Regions from separate parts of the Homo sapiens genome. Here region 2 is linked to region 1. The links come from fine-mapping of genetic effects on gene expression. Tissue or cell type: whole blood. Region 1 holds a variant in brackets; the other region holds the start of a gene. All regions are shown on one strand. Distances are from middle to middle.

What was found. PIP is the estimated chance that this variant, and not a neighbour inherited with it, causes the effect.
Region 2: it holds the start of PDLIM7, and the variant in region 1 is fine-mapped to the expression of PDLIM7 in whole blood (TOPMed, PIP above 0.99).

Annotation. Positions count from the first base shown.
Region 1 is chr5:177,559,566-177,567,666 of GRCh38, forward strand. It overlaps FAM193B-DT (FAM193B divergent transcript), which reads left to right. Exons shown (of 3, transcript XR_941274.3): 2 at 5,909-6,028. Among named protein-coding and RNA genes, the nearest start is that of FAM193B-DT, 9.0 kb to the left of the region's middle. RefSeq lists a cis regulatory region at 1,776-1,944. The variant T/G (reference allele first, on the strand shown) is at 3,731.
Region 2 is chr5:177,492,523-177,500,623 of GRCh38, forward strand. It overlaps PDLIM7 (PDZ and LIM domain 7), which reads right to left and starts at 5,082. Exons shown (of 13, transcript NM_005451.5): 1 at 5,006-5,082; 2 at 3,895-4,001; 3 at 4-155. The coding sequence starts at 3,990. RefSeq lists enhancers at 1-397, 3,734-4,475, 5,688-5,737, 5,956-6,695 and silencers at 2,190-2,339, 2,286-2,580, 4,278-4,357, 4,768-5,477.

The DNA.
Region 1 (8,101 bases):
AACATGTGAACAAGCGTCTCTGCTTTTCCTAGGCAGAGGACCCTGCGGCCTTCCGCAGCGTTTGTGTCCCTGGGTACTTGAGATTAGGGAGTGGTGATGACTCTTAATGAGAATGCTGCCTTCAAGCATCTGTTTAACAAAGCACGTCTTGCACCGCCCTTAATCCATTTAACCCTGAGTTGACACAGCACATGTTTCAGAGAGCACGGGGTTGGGGGTAAGGTTATAGATTAACAGCATCCCAAGGCAGAAGAATTTTTCTTAGTACAGAACAAAATGAAAAGTCTCCCATGTCTACTTCTTTTTACACAGACACGGCAACCATCCAATTTCTCAATCTTTTCCCCACCTTTCCCCCCTTTCTATTCCACAAAGCCGCCATTGTCATCCTGGCCCGTTCTCAATGAGCTGTTGGGCACACCTCCCAGATGGGGTGGTGGCCGGGCAGAGGGGCTCCTCACTTCCCTGTAGGGGCGGCCGGGCAGAGGCACCCCTCACCTCCCGGATGGGGCGGCTGGCCGGGCAGGGGGCTGACCCCCCCACCTCCCTCCCAGACGGGGCGGCTGGCCGGGCAGAGGGGCTCCTCACTTCCCCGTAGGGGCGGCCGGGCAGAGGCGCCCCTCACCTCCCGGACGGGGCGGCTGGCCGGGCGGGGGACTGACCCCCCAACCTCCCTCCCGGACGGGGCGGCTGGCCGGGCGGGGGGCTGACCCCCCCACCTCCCTCCCGGACGGGGCGGCTGGCCAGGCAGAGGGGCTCCTCACTTCCCAGTAGGGGCGGCCAGGCAGAGGCGCCCCTCACCTCCCGGACTGGGCGGCTGGCCGGGCGGGGGGCTGACCCCCCCCCAAATTCTTTCTTTCTTTATTTATTTTTGGAGATGGAGTCTCGCTCTTTCGCCCAGGCTGGAGTGCAGTGGCGCGATCTCAGCTCACTGAAAGCTCCGCCTCCCGGGTTCACGCCATTCTGCCTCAGCCTCCCGAGTAGCTGGGACTACAGGCGCCCACCACCACGCCGGCTAATTTTTTTGTATTTTTAGTAGAGACGAGGTTTCACCGTGTTAGCCAGGATGGTCTCCATCTCCTGCCCTCGTGATCCACCCGCCTCGGCCTCCCAAAGTGCTGGGATTACAGGCGTGAGCCACCACTCCCAGCCTTGAAGTTCTTAATGTTTGAACAAAGGGCCCACATTTTCATTTTGCTCTGGGCACTATAATTTATGTTGCAGGACACAGGACGAGCTACATAAGTTGTATAGTTTTTAACTGTTTTTAGGGGACATACAAGTAAAAGTTTTTAACTGCTTTTAGGGGACATACAAGTAAAAGTTTTTTTTTTTTTGAGACGGAGTCTTGCTCTGTCCCCCAGGCTAGAGTGCAGTGGCACAATCTCGGCTCACTGCAACCTCCACCTCCCGGGTTCAAGTGAGTCTCCTGCCTCAGCCTCCCGAGTAGCTGGGATTGCAAGCGTGTGCCACCACACCCGGCTAATTTTTGTATGTTTAGTAGAGACAGAGTTTCACCATGTTGGCCAGGCTGGTCTTGAACTCCTGATCTCAAGTGATCCACCCACCTTTGTGGGCAGCAAGCCACCCAGGTGCCAAGGCAAGAGACCAAGGACACGAGCTGTTCCAGTATAATAAAATATATAAAACAATAAGAGTTATACTAGATCTAGATCATAGACATGATTATATATGAATATCATTAATCATTAGTTTGTAGCAATTACTCTATATTCCAGTATTATAATAATCCTTGCTGTACAATCATAACCTAGGAAAAACCGAGCCATACAGAGATAGGAGCTGAAGGGATATAGTGAGAAGTGACCAGAAGACAAGAGTGGGAGACTTCTGTTATGCCTGGACAGGGCCACCAGAGGGCTCCTTGGTCTCCATAACGCCAGCATCTGGGAAGACGCCCGTTGCCAAGCAGACCGTGGTCTAGCAGTAGTGTCAGTGCCAAGGAAAACACCCGCTACTTAGCAGACCGGGAAAGGGAGTCTCCCTTTCTCCGGGGGAGTTTAGAGAAGACTCTACTCCTCCACCTCTTGTGGAGGGCCTGACATCAGTCAGGCCAGCCCACGGTTATCCGGAGGCCTAACCGTCTCCCTGTGATGCTGTGCTTCAGTGGTCACGCTCCTAGTCCGCCTTCATGTTCCATCCTGTGCACCTGGCTCTGCCTTTTAGATAACAGTAGCAAAATTAGTGAAAGTACTAAAAGTCTCTGATATGCAGAAATAATGGCGTAAGCTGTCCTCTCTCTCTCTCTCCCCCCGCCTTGGCTGTCAAACAGGGAGGGGGCCCCTGTCCAGTGGACACGTGACTCACGAGACCTTATCAATCATTGGAGATGACTCACACTCTTTACCCTGCCCTTTTTGCTTTGTATCCAATAAATAACAGTGCAGCCAGGCATTCGGGGCCACTACTGGTCTCTGTGTCTTGGTGGTAGTGGTCCCCTGGGCCCAGCTGTCTTTTATCTCTTTGTCTTGTGTCTTTATTTCTACAATCTCTCGTCTCTGCACACGGGGAGAAAAACCCACTGACCCTGTGGGGCTGGACCCTACACACCTTGGCCTTCCAAAGTGCTGGGATTACAGGTATGAACCACCACGCCACTGCAAGTAAAAGTTTTGAAAGCCACTAAGCGCTTGGGCTTTTGGAACCCCAAATCCAGGATGGTTTGCAAGGCCTCCTCCTTTCCACCCTGTGACTTAGTCTCCCCTCCCAAGGCAACAGGCATGGAATCCCTAGTTGCTCGCGTGGAGAGGAAGGAAGGGGAAATTGCAAGGGCAATGTAAACTAGATTACCATTTCAGCATTGTTTCCCATCGGCACAGGTAATGTTGGGTGCTAATGAGCCTCACAGGTGTGTGCTTCAGCCAGCCCCAGGGAAGTCACTGAGCACCATCTGTCCAATCCCCCTCATCACAGAGGAAAGCAGATCCAAGCCCCTTCCTCTCCTTGAGTTCTGGAGTTGGACCTCAGCCAGACAGAGGGATTTCTTAGCACTTTTTGAGGGAGGAAACCAACTCTGATCCCCTCTTCCTCAGTCCTCCTCCTTCTAACCTTGAGAATGGGCTTGCACCTTTGGGCAAAAGGAGTTTAGAGGAGAGGAAATATGGTTGCAGAGGGTGAGAGATGGGGTCGGGTATGAGGGATCTTGAATCCCAGGGTGAGATTGGACCTTCCTCTAGGGTGATGGAGCTGGGGCACAGAGGAAGAAGGAAATAGGGAAATCCAGGTAAGGCCCTCTGGGGAGGTGAAGCCTGCTGGACTTTGCCTTGATCTTTTCCAGGCCTAAATGTTATAGTAACTATTATTAAAAGTTTTAATGGTATATTTTTAACAGATACTCTTTTTCTACGAATAGTAAATTGCTACTAGATTGCATTATTAAAGTAAATGGTAATTACTCCTGATTATTACTTAACTGGGCAAGAACAATTAAACCTACACTAAAGGCCCTATGAGGGAACACCACCAGGGGAAGGAATAAAACATCACAGACAGTGTTGAAGAACCTGAATTTGCCTGGGGTGTTTAGGAAACAAACCTCCCAAATAAGGGAGGAGAGACTTCCTGTTGTTCACCACTCCGGCTTCATCTGACCTCTAAGTCTTGTTGATTCTGCTTCCAAAATATTTACTCCGGTTAGGATGAATCTCTGTTCATAAACCCACGTGTGCAAGAAATATAAAGTTTTCTATAACTCCACCTAATTTCCACT[T/G]GGCACTCTGCTGGAGTGACAGAAATTTAATCTCAGCTAATTTAGGGTTCCCTGAGGCTGTGCATAAGGGCTCAGGGCCTTATGAGTGTGTGTGTTGGGGGAATCTAGTTCTTAGTGTCATCTGTCCCCACAGGCATTCATGGAGAGGTCATTGGTCCCCACTGGTTGGTGCTGAGACCTGGCTCGTTCTTCCCCACAGCTGGCTTTCCTCCTCCAGCCATTCTTGCCTGTGGGAATCTGGGTGAGGCTATCTAAGGTCTTCTCCTAGACACACCTCATTGGCGTTCCATGCTGACTGTTCCTGCTTCCTGGGATAAGTTCCCTCTGCTCTTGGATTTTGTGCCCCCTCTCTGGGCCCCTCAGATGTTGTTGTCACTTACCTCCATTCTCTTCTTCACTTCCTTCCTTCCTTTTCTCTAGCCTCCAGAAACCTCTGTTTTAGGGTCTCTGGAAGACCCTCAAGAGATGGCCCTGTCTCCCTGACCAGGGTTCTAAACACACTGGGAAATGAAGCAAAGGAAAGGCAGATGGAGTCACAATATCAGCCTTATTACCAACTAAGTCATGCCCCAGGTCAGAGTATGTTGCTTGGTGTGGGCTGATGACTGAGCCCCCAAGTTAGGCAGACACCCCCCGCAGCCCCTGAGTTGTGGCAGTACTGGGCTGGGTAGGCCTCCCTCTCAGAATCCCTGTAGGGGCAGTGGGTGTGGACCCATTGTAGGCAGGGAGATCCCAAGAGGAAGAAGGGCAGAACAGAGCAGATCATGCACCCGATTCTCCAGACGCACTGATCAGAGGACTCATTCTCTCCCCATGATGCAGAAGTAGCAGGCCTGTGGGGCCCTACCACCTGGAAAGAGTGAGGAATAGGCATCTCTCCTAATCCTTCCTCCCTCTCCTCTTGCTCTTGATGTTTCTTGGAACTTTTCAGCTATGTCTGAGACTTCTTTTCTCTAAGTCCTTTTGAAACCAAATCCAGAAATATTTTTAAAGATATTTTTATTACAGACCTTTAAAACATAGACAAGTATAGACAGAATTCCGTAATAAATCCCCATGTCCTCATGCAACCATCAGTCAGCTTCAGCAGCTATCAACTCATGGCCACTTTTTCTTTTTTTTTTTTGAGACGGAGTCTCACTCTGTTGCCCAGGCTGGAGTGCAATGGCACGATCTCAGCTCACTGCAAGCTCTGCCTCCCGGGTTCACACTATTCTCCTGCCTCAGCCTCCCGAGTAGCTGGGACTACAGGCACGTGCCACCATGCCCGGCTAATTTTTTGTATTTTCAGTAGACGGGGTTTCACTGTGTTACCAGGCTGGTCTCGATCTCCTGACCTCGTGATCCACCTGCCTCGGCCTCCCAAAGTGCTGGGATTACAGGCGTGAGCCATCGTGCCTGGCTGGCCATTTTTTAAAGAGAAGAGATCTTGCTCTGTCACCCAGGATGGACTCATATTCCTGGGTCCAAGCAATCCTCACTTCCCAGGCTCCCACGTAGCTGGGACTACAGGGATGCACCATCTTATCTCGCACATGGCCTATTTTTTTTTTTTTTTTTTGAGACAAAGTCTCGCTCTGTCTCCCAGGCTGGAGTGCAATGACATGATCTCAGCTCACTGAAACCTCTGCCTCCCAGGTTCAAGTGATTCTCCTGCCTCATCCTCCCGAGTAGCTGGGAATATAGGCACCTGCCATCATGGTCAGCTAATTTTTGTATTTTTAGTAGAGACAGGGTTTCACCATGTTGGCCAGGCTGGTCTTGAACTCCTGACCTCAGGTGATCCATCCTCCTCGGCCTCCCAAAGTGCTGGGATTATAGGTGTGAGCCACCGCGCCTGGCACACATGGCCTGTTTGATTCATCTGTACCTCTACCTTCTCTCCCCACGCCTGTGTTGAAACAAATCCAGTGCATCATAACCAGAACTCTTGTTTCTGTTTTCTGCACCGTCATGTCCCGCCCCTGAGGTGCAATGAGCACAGAATGGACTAGCTATTTGAGAGCGGGGGTGGGAGGGCAGATGTGAATTACTAGAGAAAAAGAAAAACAAATGGCAACATTAGACAAACGTTATCCTGTTGTTTCCATTTTCCTCACCACTGTTCAAGTTCAGGACTCATCATTTACTTCTGGCAGCAGCTTGGTAACTAATCTCCTTGCTTCTTCTCCCTTCTAGATTACTGGTGTTTCCTCAAGTGACCACTTGTGTCATAAAAACTTGGAAAATGGACTGACATGCAGATCCGTGGGCCACTCTCCAGCCCCACTGAATCAGACACTTTGAGGTGGATTTCAGGTATTTTTTTTTTTTTTTTTTACAAACCTCCAGGTGATTCTCAAACACAGTACTGTGGAGAACCACTGTCCAAACCAGTCTTGATGCTGCTCCCAGTGCTATCTTGAAACACTAAGTCTGGCCCTGTCACCCCTGCTTACAACAACTCAGGAGGCCCCCTGCCTGAAGAATAAGTGCCAAGTATTTTTTTTTTCTTTCTTTCTTTCTTTTTTTTTTTTTTTGAGTCGGAGTCTCGCTCTGTCGCCCAGGCTGGAGTGCAGTGGCGAGATCTTGGCTCACCGCAACCTCCGCCTCCTGGGTTCAAGCAATTCTTCTGCCTCAGCCTCCTGAGTAGCTGGGACTACAGGCATGCGCCGCCATACCCGGCTAATTTTTGTATTTGTAATAGAGACGGAGTTTTGCCATGTTTGCCAGGCTGGTCTCAAACTCCTGACCTCAAGTGATCCGCCTGCCTCTGGCCTTCCAAAGTGCTGGGATTACAGGGGTGAGCCACCACGCTCAGCCCAGGCCTGGTATTTCCTTCTGGACTTTGCCTGACAGCAGCATCTTTCCCCATCACTCTCCACCTTGAACCCTGGGTTTTAGCCACATCTTACAACTTTGATGTGCTCAACTCTCTGGATTCTCTCCCTTATGCCTCCCAGGGCTGATAAACTTGTGCTGATCCTTCAAGGACCAGGTCAAGGGTGCCTTCTTCTTTGAAGCCATCTGTGGACTCACTCTGCTGTACATTGTAGTGGAAAGGCTTGGGAGTCAGACAGAGTTAAGTTAAAAGCTCTGCCACTTGCTAGCTGCGTGACTCCAGGAAAGTCCTCAGTTTCTCTGGGTCTCAGTCTCACCATCTAGAGAACAGGGATAAAAGTAGTGTCTTGGCTGGGTGTGGTGGCTCACGCCTATAATCCCAGCACTTCAGGAGGTCGAGGTGAATGGATCACTTGAGGCCAGGAGCTCGAGACCAGCCTTGCCAACATGGTAAAACCCTGTCTCTACTAAAAATGCAAAAGTTAGCTGGGTGTGGTGGTGTGCACCTGTAATCCCAGCTACCTGGGAGGCTGAGGCAGGAGAATGGCTTGAACCTGGGAGGTGGAGAGTGCAGTGAGCCAAGATTACTTCACTGCACTCCTGCCTGGGCAACAGAGTGAGACACCATCTGAAAAACAAACAAACAAAAAGAGTGTCTTATGGCATTGTGAGATATAAATGGAGACGTTAGCACAGTGCCTGGCACATACAGTAGGGTGTCCAAAAACAAGAGCACCCTAACAAGAGCCTGGCACAGACAGTTAAAGTCCAGGGCATCTTGAAATGTGGTATGTGGGCAGGCACAGTGGCTCATGCCTGTAATCCCAGCTACTCAGGAGGCTGAGGCAGGAGAATGACTTGAATCTGGGAGGTGGAGGTTACAGTGAGCCGAGATCCCACCACTGCACTCCAGCCTGGGCAACAGAGTGAGACTCCCTCTCAAAAAATAGAAATGCAGTGTGTGGTTCTCAGTGCCTCCAATAACTAATGCAGCCTGCCCGTCAGAAGTCAGCTAACAAGGCTGTGTGCAGTGGCTCATGCTGTAATCCCAGCATTTTGGGAAGCTGAGGCAGAAGAATTGCTTGAACCCAGGAGGTGGAGGTTGCAGTGAGCTGAAATCGTGCCATTGCACTCCAGCCTGGGCGACAAGAGCAAGACTTCATCAAAAAAAAAAAAAAAAAAAAAAAAAAAGAAAGAAAGAAAAAAGGTCAGCTAACAAAATGACTTATTACGGAAAGATAGCGAAGTCGTCACTGCTCTGTTGGACAATAACAGCCTTATCTCAGGGCCCCCTGCCTCCAGACATTTATACCTTCCAGCCCTGCCATGCACCGCCCCAGAGTGAATTTTCTAATAGATGTCATAATGTAACTGAGGGTTTCAGTAGTTTCCGTTCTGAAATGGCTCTCCACATCCATGCTTCTGATGCATAGCCTTTTCTGAGCGCCTGCTGAAATAGGCAAACCAAATAGGAACAATGAGTCCTCATCACTGGACATTAAGAAGGGTCTCACCTACACATCTGAAAATGCGTGGTCCGGCAGGAAGTCA
Region 2 (8,101 bases), 67 kb before region 1:
TACCTGCTGAGGCCCAGGCTGAGGCGCTCCCCGCAGGCCCGGATCTTGTTCTGAGCTTCGATGTGTGTGAGGCTACCCGCATTCTCGCCATCGATGCTCAGCACCCAGTCACCCACGGCCACTCCGGCCTGCGCCGCTTTGCCCCCAGGAGTGAGCTGTGGAGAGAGAAGCAAAGTGACCGAGGCCCTGGACCCTGCAGACCCAAGCCAGGCTGACGGTGGTAACACTGCCCCACCCAAAGCTGTCCCACTTCCAGAACCCAGAGAGCTCTTCATTCAACATAGTTCTAGGCAGCTGCTGGACACTAAAGCAACCCAGGAGGTGGTGGCGCTCACCTGAGCTTCACAATTTCCCAGTCACACTGCTTATTTATTCACTGCCAGACCCTCTCCCTCAGGTGGTGCTCACCTGAGCTTCCCCAGTCACGATGCTTATCTATTCACCGCCACCACCCTCCCCCACAGTCCAGAAATTGCTATGATGTCCACAAACAGCCACGCTCAGGCTAAAGCCCAAGTGTTTCAGGAGGACCATTGCCTTTTGAGGCTCCTGCTGGCCTCCTGCCCAGGCCACTCCACCTACCAGATATGCCCTCTGGCCCATGCAGGGGGCAGCTTCCTCCCCGAAACCACCGGGGGCTCTTATGGACCTCTCACCCCCCAGCACCCTGTCGGGGGCCATCTATAGGGGTCTGCTGGGACCCTTTGAGAGCCAGGAACAGGCCCTGTTATCTCCCGGTTCCCTGTGAACACTGCCTGAATGGGACCTAAGTTGACAGCTGGGACTTCGTAGGCCATACATGGCTGTCACTCCCAAGCCCTCGACTGCCAATTTCCCCTGACCCCAATCCTTCAGGCTCTTGAGCTGGGAGTCCCTGGTTCCTGTGGCAATGAGTAGAGACAGTAGGCTGGGAGAAATGGCTGCCACCAGCATGAGCTGAGACCATCAGGAATGACTTTGAGGAAGCGGTGGGCCTCGGTAAAGGAGAATGGCGTGTGCTGCCTAGCGGGTGAGAGTTCACTTACGATGGCTTTGAATGCCAGGGGAAGGGACCAGGACTTGGCTTTGAAGGTAGAGGGGCTACTGGCAGTTTTAATGTCTGGGATTGGGTATCTCCCAGGCCCTGAGAGGGTGACCCTGATAAACCCCTTCCAGGCCTCTAGCCCAGCCCCAGCAACACAGGCAGGGCAGCTTGACTGGGTCCAAGCCTAAGGGACCACCCAGCCATCTGGCAAGAGGCCTGGCACTGCATCAAGTAGGCTTTTGTGAGGCAGTGCTGGAAGACAATTTCACTGGGTGGGGGGGATCTGGGGGGGTCCAGGCTGCCAGTGGCCCCAGGAGGCTCCTCAGGTGGGTCAGTGCACAGACTGAGCTGAGGCAGGGAGAGGGGAGGCAAGAGGTTTCAGAGAGATGTCAGAGGGCAGGGCAGCCAGGCACAGAGCTTGACAGCACTGGGAAAAGAAAGGCGAGCTGGGCTCAACATGACCTCTTGCTTGCGTAGGAGGTCAGAAGGCTAAGAGAGCTCGGCGGCCCCTTCCTCACTCGCTAGATAAGAAGACTTGCTTCAGTTTATTGAGCACCAACTATGCTACATATTGACACTGAATCTTCCAACAACCTTGTGGAGTAATCTGGGATTTTACCCATTTTGCACTTGCAAATGTACACAGAGAGGTTAAACAACTTGCCTCAAGTCACCCAGCTAGTAAGAGGCAGAGCCAGGAAGTGTCTCTGACCCTAAGGCTCCACCACTGTGGGCCACCTCTGCTGAGCATGGGGGCCCAACTGAGGGGTCAGCCCACCTGGAGACACCCTGAGCCACTCCCTCACCTTTAGTTCAATCCAACTAAATCAACCCCTTATACTGTGTATGGGGAAGTGACACCCCAGAGGGGAAGTGACTTACTCAAGGTCATGGTGAGTCAGTAGAAGGGAAACCTGGCCCAGCCACTCCCTGCCCACAGGGCTGGCTCCTGGGAGCTGTGGGCTGAGCCCGAGGTGGGGGTCTTGGGGTGCAGCTAGCTGGCTCCTGGAGAGGGGGTGGGGGGCGGGGACGGCTTCCCTTCCCAGAGTGAGGAGGGCAGGAAGCACAGAGGATGAGGGGTGTTCAGAGCGTGGGGAGGGCAGCAGGAGAGCAGAAGACAGCGCTGGGCGGGTGGCTGGAGAGAGGCAGGGAGGGGCTCAAGCCAGGGGCAGGGTAAGGCCAGAGGAACCAAGGAGGGAAAAAGCCAGGGGGCTGGACCCTGCATGAGGTGGGGGTGAGTCAGCCTGAGCAGCCCAGCCCCCCAGTCCCAGACGTTACCTCATCTCCCAGGCCTGGGCCCACAGCCAGCCCTTGCCCCTCCCACCTCCCTCCATTCTGGGGTCAGGGGAGGGGGAGGGGGCTGGCCTAACTCAGAAAAGCCCACCTCACCCACCCATGTGGGCCCAGGTCCAACTCCAGGGCTGGGATCAGCTAGTGGCCCCGCCCACATGCCAGGGATGCTGACCAGGGAGCTGGAGCCCGGAGTGCCCCCAACAGGCCATATCTGAAAGTCATCTCCATCAGGGAAGAAACTGAGGTTCAGGCTCCCCAGACACACTGGGCCAGCACTTTCCCAGGGAGCAGGACGTCAGGTAGGTTTCAGGGCTGTGTGAGGGCTATGTAGTGGGACGTGTGTCATAGGGCAACCACTGCCTCACTACCCTGCTGGCGGGGCAGGTTCCAGGAGAATGCCATCAAAGGACCCCTGAGAAGAGCACTGCTGGCCTGCCCACCCTAACCCCCACGCCCAGCTCCTACAGACAGACTCCAGCTTGAGCCCCTCCTCAGGCCACGACCCTCTGGGCCCCTCCAGGCTGGGCTTGCCTTGGGCTTCCTGACAACAGCTGCCTGCCCACCCGGCGCCTGGGTGGGTCTCTTGGGGCAGGCGGATATAGGGGCAGGAAGTCCCCACCCCCTCCTGACCCCCAGGCCAGTCAGAGATGCCAGCCGACAGGCTGGCCTCACCCACTCTGGGCAGGCAATTTGTTGTGTCTCACAACTGGACCATATAGCTGGAGCTGCAGCCTGGTGACCAGCTGAGAGGCCCACCAGTGGGGTTCAGGGGGCCAGGCCTAGGCCAGCCCTTTTCAGCTCTGCAGACCGCAGCCACTGTTGGCCATCCCAGCGTGGGGCTGCATTCTTGGGCTTATAAGGCAATCCCCCTGCTACAGGGAGGAGCCAGCCTCCAGCTCCACCCACACCAGGGCAGGCTCTTGGAAGCTGAAGTTAAGCCCCTAGAATGGAGCCCTGTCCTACACTTCTGCTTGGGGTCAAAGGCCACCACATCCTGAATGGGAACAGTGGATGTGGGTCCTTACATAGGCTGGGGAGAGACCCCTTCTACCCACAAAAAATGTACGCCATGCTGTGCCTCAATTCCAATCCCTGCTTCACCATGGACTCGATGAGCGAGCCCCGCCACCTCTCCATGAGTTCTTCTCTCATCTGGAAAAACGGGATGAGGATTGCTATTCCCTGGGCGGCAGTGAGGCTGAAGTGAAATCCTATAGTCACAGTGTCCTGCCTGGGGCCTGGCTCCAAGCATTGCCACCTCAAGTTTAGATACCTCCTGAAATGTTAGGCTCCCATCCTGCACAATGAGCCTCCCTCCAGCCCTCAGAGGTGGCCACAGGAGCTTGGGAGAACAGCATCGGGTACAGTGCAGGGCTGGAGAAGCCTGGGTGCTCCCTCCCAGTATCCACCTCATTGGGAGTCCTTGTGGCAGGCAGGTACCACTACATCTCCGGACCTAGACATCTCCTGGCCTGCTGGCCCCTGACCAGCTCCTGTTAGGACTCCCCCCATCACCCTCTGGAGACCTAAGCACCGAAAGACCGCTGGGGGAGCCCCCTCCCCAAACCTAGGCTCACCCGGGAAATGGAGAGGGGCACATTGAAGTCCTTGCCCCCTTGCAGCCGGAAGCCCCAAGGTGCTGGCCCCTCCAGCACTACTTTGAAGGAATCCATGATGCCGGCTCCTGAGAGGAGAGAAGAGAAGGTGAGTGGCCAGCATGGTGGGCGGGCAGGCAGGCAGGCCGGGCCAGCTCAGGATACCAGCCTTGGACAGGGGCCAGGCAGGCACGGGCAGCCCCTGAGCACGCCCAAGCCATAGGAGGCAGGTATTTTGTCAGGCTGGCCTGGGCTGCTGGCTGGCGGACCTCACTTTGGAAAGACAGGAGCAGCCCCCCTCCCCTTGGGACTGGAACGGTGAGGGGTGCCTGAATCCAGGCTTGAGGTTCTTTGCAACCAGGGGTGGGCCGAGGGACTAAACTGGCGCGGCCTCCCCCCAAGCCAGCCTGGAGCCTCGGGCGGCCGGGTGAGTCAGGGGCCGGCTCTCCTCTCCCCCGCCCCCAGGTCCCGGCAGGCAGGCCGCGGCTGGAGCCTGCTCGGACTATATAAGGCGTGTAAGCTGACACTGTGCGGAGAGCCAGCGGAGGGAGCACACGGGGGCTTGGGACGCGAGGGGGGGGGGAGGGGAGGGGAGGGGAGGGGAGGGGAGGGAGGCGGCTGCAGCGGATCCTCCTAGCCATTCCGGGACCAGTCGAGGCTGCTGGGAGCCAGGGCGGGACCCCTGGGTGCTGAAGAAGGGGAAGGCGGGAGTGGGGTGCGGCCCCTGTGGAGACAGATGGGGGCTGGGACCCTCAAGCATAGCTTGGAGGGGGATCCTTCCCCGAGCCCAGTGGGGGGTGGTGCCTCCCACACAGAACTGCTCCCACACCGACGTGACTCAGTTTCCCCTTAGTCCCCCGCCCGGGCCCCATGCATTAGACTGGCCCCGGCCGCAGGAAGCGGCGCAGGCGCCAATCGGCCCCGCCGCAGCCGGCTTAGCGGCAGGAAGGCGGGGGCGGGGGCGGAGGCAGGGGCCAGGGCCAGCGGGAGGAAGCACAGCCTGGACCACGACCCCCAGTGCCCTTTGTGGTCCTCAGCAGGCCCCGGGCGCCCGCCTGGTGCAGCCCAAGACGCCCCGCGCGGTCGTCGATACCTGCTTGGCCCGGCCAGGGCGCTGCTCTGCGTCGGGCTCCAGGGAGCCTCGTTGGGATCGGCCGCCAGTGTTCTGACCCCGCCCCCACAGCCACCCTCCACTTTGAGCGCGCGGACGGGGGCGGGGCACCAGGCCACGCCCTCGTCGCGACCACGCCCACTAGACTTTCTCCGCTGGTGGAAAGCCCCACCCAGCTCTTCCGTCCTGCCCAATCACCAAGTCCCGTCGGGCTTAGAGCTGAGAGGCCTCGCCGACCCGGGCCCTGCAACGGGGCGGAGTCGGGAGGGGGCCGGGGCTGCGGGTCGCCTCCTTAGGGAAGCGCTGCCTCGCCCAGTCCCTCGCACCGCCCGCTGGCGGAGGGAGAGGAAAGCGGACCTTCAAACCAGACCGACCTGGGACATAGTAGTCTCTGAACCTTAGTTTGCTACTCCGAAAAATGGGACGATCATACTCGCCTCGCAGGGCTGCCGCGAGTGTCGGTATCGTAGGCGCAACCCTCGGGGACTGCAGAATCTGTAAATCAGAGGGGCTGGGGGAGACAAGTTGAGGGGGACAGGGGCGTTTAAAGCTAGAGTTGCGCAACGCTCTGCCGAAGGCAGGAAAACAGGGCAGGAGCGGACGCCGGATGTCCCTGCAACCCCGAGCCGACCCGCGCACCGTCGGAAGCGCCGCGTCCCGCTCCACCTTGGCCAGAGCGGACTGCGCCGCCTGGGAGGCGTCCTCAGAGTCCCGGCCCCGCGTTCAGCCCAGGCACTAGGGCCGGCGGCACGGACACTGAGCACATGCGGGTGTCGGGGTGAGGGAAGGGGCGTCCACCCTCCACTCGCTTGGTGGTCCCGGCCCATCACCTCCTCCTAGGACAGAGTCGCTGCAGTTCTCCCCTCTCCATCCACAGTCATCACACCCACCCTGTTCTGCACAAACCGCCGTGAGAGTTCTCGTCGTTAAAGACCTTCTCTTGACCCCACATCCCTCTCCAGCTACTACCCTTTAATTCTCCTCTCGAGAGTAAAATTCCTCCAGGGAGTTGTCTGTTTATCGCGTCTCCACTTGCTTTCCTTCAGTTATCTCTTGAAGCCATGCCAGGCGGGCTCTTGTCCGCACCCGTCCCCTGAGATCTCTCTTCTCAAGGTCCCCTGTGGCCTGGAGGCCATGGGGCCATGGAATCCGTGGTGGTTAAGTTTCATCCTGCCCTGCCTAGGGGCAGCACTGGTCCAGGTTGATCCTTTTCCGCGAAACACCCTTTTTCCCTGGCTTCACAGCTTCCCCCTGCCCCACTGGCCCCTCCTTCCCATCCTCCTCTGCCTCTGGCCTTGGCCATCTGATGTCGCCTCTCTTTATGCTCACCCCCTGAGACCCCGTACTGTCCTGTGGCTTTCAACACCACCTATATGCAAAGGCATCCCATGTTTCATGGCCAGCCTGACCTCTCCCCAGGAACTCTAACTCCATTATCCAAAACCCTGCCTAGATGTTTACTAGATCAGGGGTCCCCAACTCCCCGTTTGTGGCCTGTTAGGAACTGGGCTGCACAGCAGAAGGTGAGCAGCGGCAAGCCAGAGAAGCTGAGTGCAGCGGCAGCATTAGACTCCCATAGGAGCGTGAACCCTATTGTGAACTGTGCATGCGAGGGATCTAGGTTGCTCATTCCTTATGAGAATCTAATGATAAATGGGCCGGGTGCAGTGGTTCACGCCTGTAACCCCAGCACTTTGGGAGGTTGAGGCGGGGGAGGATCACTTGAGGTCAGGAGTTCGAGACCATCCTGGCCAATATGGTGAAACCCCGTCTCTACTAAAAATACAAAAATTAGCTGGGCGTGGTGGCGCATATGCCTATAATCCCAGCTACTTGAGAGGCTGAGGCAGGAGAATGACTTGAACCTGGGCAGCAGAGGTTGTAGTGAGCCAAGATGGCTCCACTGCACTCCAGTGTGGGTGACAGAGCGAGACTCTATCTCAAAAAAAAAAAAAAAAAAAGAGTCTAATGATAAATGTACTGCACTCGAACCACCCTGAAACCATCCCCACCCCACCCCCAGTCTGTGGAAAAATTGTCTTCCATGAAAGCGGTCCCTTCTGCCAAAAAGGTTGGGGAACCACTGTACTAGGTATCTCAGACCATCATGGCCCAATTCAAACTTGTGCCTTTCCCACCTTCCTAACTCCTTCCTCACTTCAAGAAGTGCCACCAACATTTATCCAACTGGTTCAGCAGAAACGATGAAGTTATCCTTTCTCTTCTGTCCTCCCCCAGATTCTGCAAATTCCACCTTCAACATGTTCACATCTAACCGCTGCTGCCACCATTGTCCCAGCCACTGCCATTTTGTGCCTGCGCCCCTGTAACGGTCTCCTAACGGGCATCCCTGCTTTCACCCTTGCCCCTTCCAGAGTCTTCACGAAGCAGCCAAAGTGATATTTTTAAAGCCAGAATCACAGCACCATGTCACTCTCAGCTTTTAGCATTCCAGTGGGCTCATATTGCACTCAAAATAAAACTGAAGTCCTTAAGACCTACAGAATATGAATAAACTGGGTCTGACTCCTACCACTCGCTCCCTCCACTCCAGCCACCCTGACCTCCTCACTCACATTTCCTCCAGCAGGCCAAGCATATTTCTGCCTCAGGGCCTCTCCACTTGCCAGTTCCCCTGCTTGAAACACTTTTCTTTTTTTTTCTTTTTTCTTTTCTTTTTTTTTTTTGAGACGGAGTCTCGCTCTGTCATCCAGGCTGGAGTGCAGTGGTGTGATCTCGGCTTGCTGCAACCTCTGCCTCCCACGTTCAAGTGATTCTCCTGCCTCAACCTCCCGAGTAGCTGGGACTACAGGCATGAACCACCATGCCCGGATAATTTTTATATGTTTAGTAGAGATGGGGTTTCTCCATGTTGGTCAGGCTGCTCTCAAACTCCTGACCTCCAGCGATCCACCTGCCTTGGCCTCCCAAAGTGCTGGGATTACAGGCGTGAGCCACCATGCCCGGTGCCCGGCCCTTGAAACACTTCTCCAGATATCTCAGCAACAGGTTTCCAACTTTATTTAGGTCTCTGCTCAGATGTGGCCTCCTCCCAGGGCCTTTCCTGATCACAGCTGA